Regions from separate parts of the Homo sapiens genome. Here region 1 is linked to region 2. The links come from fine-mapping of genetic effects on gene expression. A gene starts in region 2. The other region holds a variant in brackets. All regions are shown on one strand. Distances are between the middles of the regions. Region 1 overlaps AOC1 (amine oxidase copper containing 1). Region 2 holds the start of TMEM176A (transmembrane protein 176A).

Region 1 (3,009 bases), 53 kb after region 2:
AGCACATCACAGAAGGTGCCCGGGTGCTTGGTGGCAGGCAACAGCCGGCCAGGGTGGAGTGGGGAAAGCTCAGAGAGGAGGGTGAGCAGGGAGAGGGCTTGCTTCCTGTTCCTGCCTGGAGGTCTCACCAGCCACCACCCCCACTGCCACTGCACATGGGGACAGAGGTTTGTCCTGGGGAAAGCAAAGGTCTCTTCCACATCTTTCTCCTTCCTGGAAAAGCAAAAAGAAACGTGGGTATAAGAGGTTGTAAAAAAGGAGACCCAGCCGTGAAAGGACATGGAGGTACCCTAAATGCACACTGCCAAGCAAAAGAAGCCAATCTGAAAAGGCTGCAGACTGTAAGATTCCAAATACAGGACGTTCTGGAAAAGGCAAAACTATGGAGACAATAAAAAGAGCAGTGATTGCTAGGGTTTCGGAGGAAGAGGTGGAGCACAGAAGATTTTGGGGGAGGTGGAACTATTCTGTGTGATATTCTAATGGTGGATCCATGTCATTGTCCGTTTGTCCAACCCATAGAATATGCAGCAGCAAGAGTGAGTCCTGATGTAAACTGTGGGCTCTGGGTGAGAGTGATGTGCAGGTTCATCAGCCACAAATGTATGGCTCTGGTGTGGATATTGATAGTGGGGAGGCTGCGTGTGTAGGGGCTGTGAGTATACAGAAACTCTCAGTACCTTTCGCTCAATTTTGCTATGAACCTAAAATTCCTCTTTAAAAGACTCCTATTTAAAAGACTTTAATAGACTTTATAAAGTTTGTTAAAAGACTTTTAATAGACTTTTTAAAGACTTTTAACAGACTTTATAAAGTCTATTAAGAAATCTATTAAAGTCTATTTTTAAAAGTCTATTAAAAAAAAAGTCTACTATAATCCCAGCACTTTGGGAGGCCAACGCAGGAGGATCACTTGAGCCCAGGAGTTCAAGACCAGCCTGGGCAACATAGTGAGATCCTGACTATATATATATATATATATATATATATATATATATATTTATTTATTTATTTATTTAAGTCTAATAAGAAGTCTATTTGGGGCCAGGCCTGGTGGCTCATGCCTGTAATCCCAGCACTTTGGGAGGCTGAGGCAGGTGGACCACTTGAGGTCAGGAATTCAAGACCAGCCTGACCAACACGGTGAAACACCATCTCTACTAAAAACAAAAAATTAGCCGGGCATGGTGGTGCACACCTGTAATCCCAACTATTCCAGAGGCTGAGGCAGGAGAATTGCTTGAACCTGGGAGGCAGAGGTAGCAGTGAGCCAAGATCGCATCACTGCACTCCAGCCTGGGCTACAGAGCAAGACTGTCTCAGGAAAAAGAAAAAATAGTCTATTTAAAGAAGAAAAAAAAGAGGCCTGGCCAATATTTAATAGGAGAACACAAGAACTCACCTCATATCCTTCCTGCTGGCTCTGGGTTCCGCCTGCAGCCCCTGCCTCACCTGCTCCCTCCAGGTAAGCAGGGCCTCCGAGAGCCCAAGATCATGTGGGTTCCAGGGTCTTCTGCCAGCACCAGAGGGCAAGACAAGGCAACTAGAGGGACATCCCCATGAGAGGCCATGACCATGGAGCAAAACGAGGGCAAGGGGAGAGCCCTCGGGGAGAGGGGCATGGGAAAGGGAGAGAAGGACATCTCAGATCAGCCTTTACCGTGGCCTCCA[G/A]GGCTAGAGAGCCCTCGGGTGATGGAACAGGCCCAGCCAACACCTTTCATTTGTCTATGAATCAAGAACTGCCCATCGTGTACAAATTAAATACAAAGTGCTAAGGGGACTAGTGGAGAAGTATGTTAGTTGGGGCCAAAAACAGCATTCCTCGGCAGTGCGGGGTTTCAGCTGACCTCAAAAGGTGGCAAAGGATGTGACACTGGCCCAGAGTCGGGTGGGAAGGGACAATGTGCAGCTGAGCTTCTCTGGAGGAAAAAAGCCACGGGAAAACAGGGCCTCTAGTTAACACATGGGTTGTGTTCCCAACGCTTGTGCTTCGGAAATGTGATGTGTAAATGCATTTTCCAAAAACAAAAGCAAGAAATGAAAAGCGCTCATGATGGTCAGGTTTCCTCAGTGGGTCACTCCACGATACACCCAAAGTGGAGCTGCTGCACCTCAGTTACACCTCACACCCTGTGCCGCCGACTTTCCAGGTGAAATCCTCGGGGCCTCCCTTGCAGGCAGCCTGGGCCCCCTGGGAAGAGGCTGGGCCAGGCAGAGGTCTGAGACAGGAGTGGATTAACCCTCTCTGCTACCTGTCTGTCTGCACAGGAGAACGAGTTTTCTCCAGGTTTACCCCCAGGGCTTCTGATTTAGGGAGCAAAAGGCAACTACCTATGAAAATATGAAAACAAGGATCTCTCAGAGTCCAACCCACTCATGCATCCACCTTATAAATCAAGTGTCTGTGCCTCAGGCACTGCTTGCAGGAAGTGAAAAGCACAGCTGAGACAGGGAGGAATCCTGAAGCGGGGCTCCCAGCTCAACCCAGAGCCTTGAGGAAGGGGGTGCAAGGTGGCAAAGGCAGTGCTTCTGTAGGGAAATTTCACGGTGACGGCAGCCTTCCAGGGAGGCCCACATCACCTAGGAGGACAAGTTAGGGTCTGGAGAAACTAAGGCTGGGAGACAGCTCCAGCCAGCATCTGTAGCAACAGCGCAACAGGCAAGAGTAACAGTCTCCCAGAGACTCCGCACACAGCACATGGGAAGACAGAGCTGTGGCCACCACGTCTCCCAGCCCTGCAGGAGGCTCACAGCTACAAGCACAGGATTTTACAGCTGCTTGGGGAATGGGGTTATGAGGTGAAGACCCTGACCCACCCTCCCTGAGAAAGGAAAAGGCATCTTCCTAAGATGAAACCCTCCCTGAGGTCCCCTCCTAGTAGCCTTGGGTGGACAAGAGAGGTGAATGGGGCACAAAGAAGGCTAGGCAGGACTGGGCACCTCTACCTCACCCCCAAAGCCATCAGTCTGCAGCCTAGTCACACCTGAATCACTCTACATTGCGTAAAA
Region 2 (2,750 bases):
TTTCACCCACCTGGCCTCCTTGGGGTTAGAAAGGACAGGAGTTAGACAATTCCGCACACGTACAAAGGAGCTTCAGACTGCTTCCAGCCCAGCCCCAGATTCCAGCCAGACCTTCCCTTGACGGCCCAGGCCTCGCCCTGAGGGCACCTCGGGTTCCAGCTACCTCCGGGCCCCCAGGACCACCGCTTCCCCCGCCCCACGCCAACCCCTAGATCTGCCTCGCCCCCGCCTGAAGAGTCGGATCTGAACCAGGCCGGCACCACGGAGATTCCCCTGCGGGCCGCCCGACGCCTGGTAGGTGGTGGGCTCTTCCCGGCTGCCCCGAACACTTTCCTCTGTCCAGCTCTTCCCGTGCCCCGGGGCTGGGGAAAGCGTCCGGCAGCCCCGCCGCTCCCTGGCCCCGTCCCAGGAGCCACCCCACCGTAGGGCTCCAGCCAGGGTCCAGGCGTGCAGGCGGCAGAAGGTGGACGGGACGCGCCAGCCCCAGGCCTCTCCTCCCGCTCTCCAGCCGTTTTTCTGGGGAGAAACACCTGCACCCAGCTGTCCCTCCCTCCTACGTGAGTCCTCCTGGAAACCAGGTTGGAGGAAGAAAGACGTCCTGTGGACAGGACGGGGTGGGGGCATGGCCCTGGGGACTCCTCGTGACAGAGGGTCCTGCGGCAAGAGGGTCTCCCGGGCCGCGGAGGCCCTGCCTCACCTGCAGTCCTCCGGGAGCCCGCGGCCGAGCAGAGCGGACACTAGCTGACCCCGAGCAGGGGAGCGACGGGAGGGCGGAGACGGCAGATGCACGGGTGGGGGCTGCGGCCCCGCCCAGGCTGCGCGGTTTCCCGAAACCAGCTGCGGCCCGGGGGCCCGGCAAAGGGGGTTCCGCCCGGAGGAGCGGACCGGGCGGGAGAAGACCGAGCCCCCGCGCGCCCCCTGCGCTCCCACTCGCGCACACTTGCACGCCGGCCCTGGCCGGGCGGGGCTGGAGGCGAGAACGACCCCACGGGCTTTCCCAGGGCCGTCCGCCCGCGGACCCTCCCAGCTCCCCAGAGCCCAGTGACCCTCGCGCAGCAGGAGAACCCCAGACGGACCCCAGGCCCTGCAGCCTGTCATGAACCCGAGGGGCTGAAGTTCAGCCCCACCCCCGCCTCCCCTCCCCGCCTCCCCCTCCAACTCTCAACCCACTTCTCCAGCCAGCGCCCCAGCCCTCCCGCCGCCCGCTCGCAGGTCCCGAGGAGCGCAGGTGAGGCGGCACCCCACTCCCGGCGGCCCCCGGGCCTCCTTCCGCACGCACCCCGAGCTGCCTCCGCACAGTTGGAGGAGCGTAGGAGGGACCCCCACCCAGGGATGACACTCCAGGAAGGGGACTGCAGAGGAAGCCAGGTGCGGCCCCGGCTTTTGACCTACCTCCGCACCGCAGCGCGGTCCTTCACGGGGCAGGGGCGGCGTGAACCCGTCGGGCGTGAGCAGCAGTCGGTGGAGCGGGAGGTCGGCGGTGGCGGGGATGGGGGTATCCGGAGCGCAGCCGGGGCGCAGCTGCTGGCACAGGAGCTCCACAGGCAGCCAAGGACTCGGTCCTGTCCCAGAGCCTGCGGACTGTGGAGGGGAGGCCGCAGGAAGAGCCCGGGAGGAGGGGGTGAGGGGTCGAGGTGTGGGGCGCTGCTTGACCCAGACGCCAGGGCCCTGGGAGGAGGATGAGGGGGACAGAGCAGATCTTGGGCGAAAGGGGAGGTTCCCGCAGGCTCTGTAGTCGCCGCAGTTCCAGCATGGTCAGCACCCCCTCTGCTACACACATTCCCCTCGTGAGGGGCCAGGGGTGCGGCCCTGTGACCAGGACAGCCATTCATTGGGTGACTTTGAGCCACCACTGGCCCCTGACCTCCCCAACTCCAATGAAATCTGCGAAAATCTTCTGACAGCCGTTCCTCTCTGGTGCTCCCTTCCTCATAGACTGTGTCCCTGACAATGGGAACAGCCGACAGTGATGAGATGGCCCCGGAGGCCCCACAGCACACCCACATCGATGTGCACATCCACCAGGAGTCTGCCCTGGCCAAGCTCCTGCTCACCTGCTGCTCTGCGCTGCGGCCCCGGGCCACCCAGGCCAGGGGCAGCAGCCGGCTGCTGGTGGCCTCGTGGGTGAGTGTGACGGCCTGCCTCGTCGGGCGGCGGGAGGAACTCCCCACCTCCAGCCGCAGCAGCACTCTCTGCCAGCCTCCCTCTGAACAGGACACCGAGCCAGTTATGTCTTCTTACTTAGCGATGTGATTCTCTGGCCTTCTCAGTAAGAGCCTGGGGAGGGGAGGCTCTGGGCTGAAGGGGTGTGGAGGAGCCACTGACCATGCAGAGTCCCAATCAGTGGAGCCCTGAGTCCATCCTTTCCTCTGGGCCAAACTCAGGATGGGCCGGCTCTCCTCTCCTTCCTTTCCCTTCTCTTTTCTCCTCCTCCTGCCTCTTCTTCTTTCTCCTTCTCCTCCTCTTTCTTCTCCTTTTCTCTTCTCTTCTCTTCTCTTCTCTTCTTTCTTTCTCTCTCTCTCTACCTCTCCCTCTCTTTTTGGGGTTTTAGCGGTTAATCCCTGCAGTGGCAGGTCCACCTAGGAGCCGGGATCTTGGGTCCTTTGTCTTTCAGGTGATGCAGATCGTGCTGGGGATCTTGAGTGCAGTCCTAGGAGGATTTTTCTACATCCGCGACTACACCCTCCTCGTCACCTCGGGAGCTGCCATCTGGACAGGGGCTGTGGTGAGTAGAGCAGGACAGTGCTTGA

What was found.
Region 1: its variant is fine-mapped to the expression of TMEM176A in whole blood (TOPMed, PIP 0.95).

Annotation. Positions count from the first base shown.
Region 1 is chr7:150,852,699-150,855,707 of GRCh38, forward strand. The region is part of intron 1 of AOC1 (amine oxidase copper containing 1); the gene reads left to right. All of the region lies in intron 1 of LOC105375567 (a long non-coding RNA gene), which reads right to left. Among named protein-coding and RNA genes, the nearest start is that of AOC1, 1.7 kb to the left of the region's middle. The variant G/A (reference allele first, on the strand shown) is at 1,672.
Region 2 is chr7:150,799,601-150,802,350 of GRCh38, forward strand. TMEM176A (transmembrane protein 176A) reads left to right here and starts at 1,169. Exons shown (of 7, transcript NM_018487.3): 1 at 1,169-1,228; 2 at 1,936-2,124; 3 at 2,615-2,725. The coding sequence starts at 1,951. TMEM176B (transmembrane protein 176B) reads right to left here and starts at 764. Exons shown (of 7, transcript NM_001101312.2): 1 at 698-764. RefSeq lists enhancers at 1-460, 461-1,160, 1,161-1,860.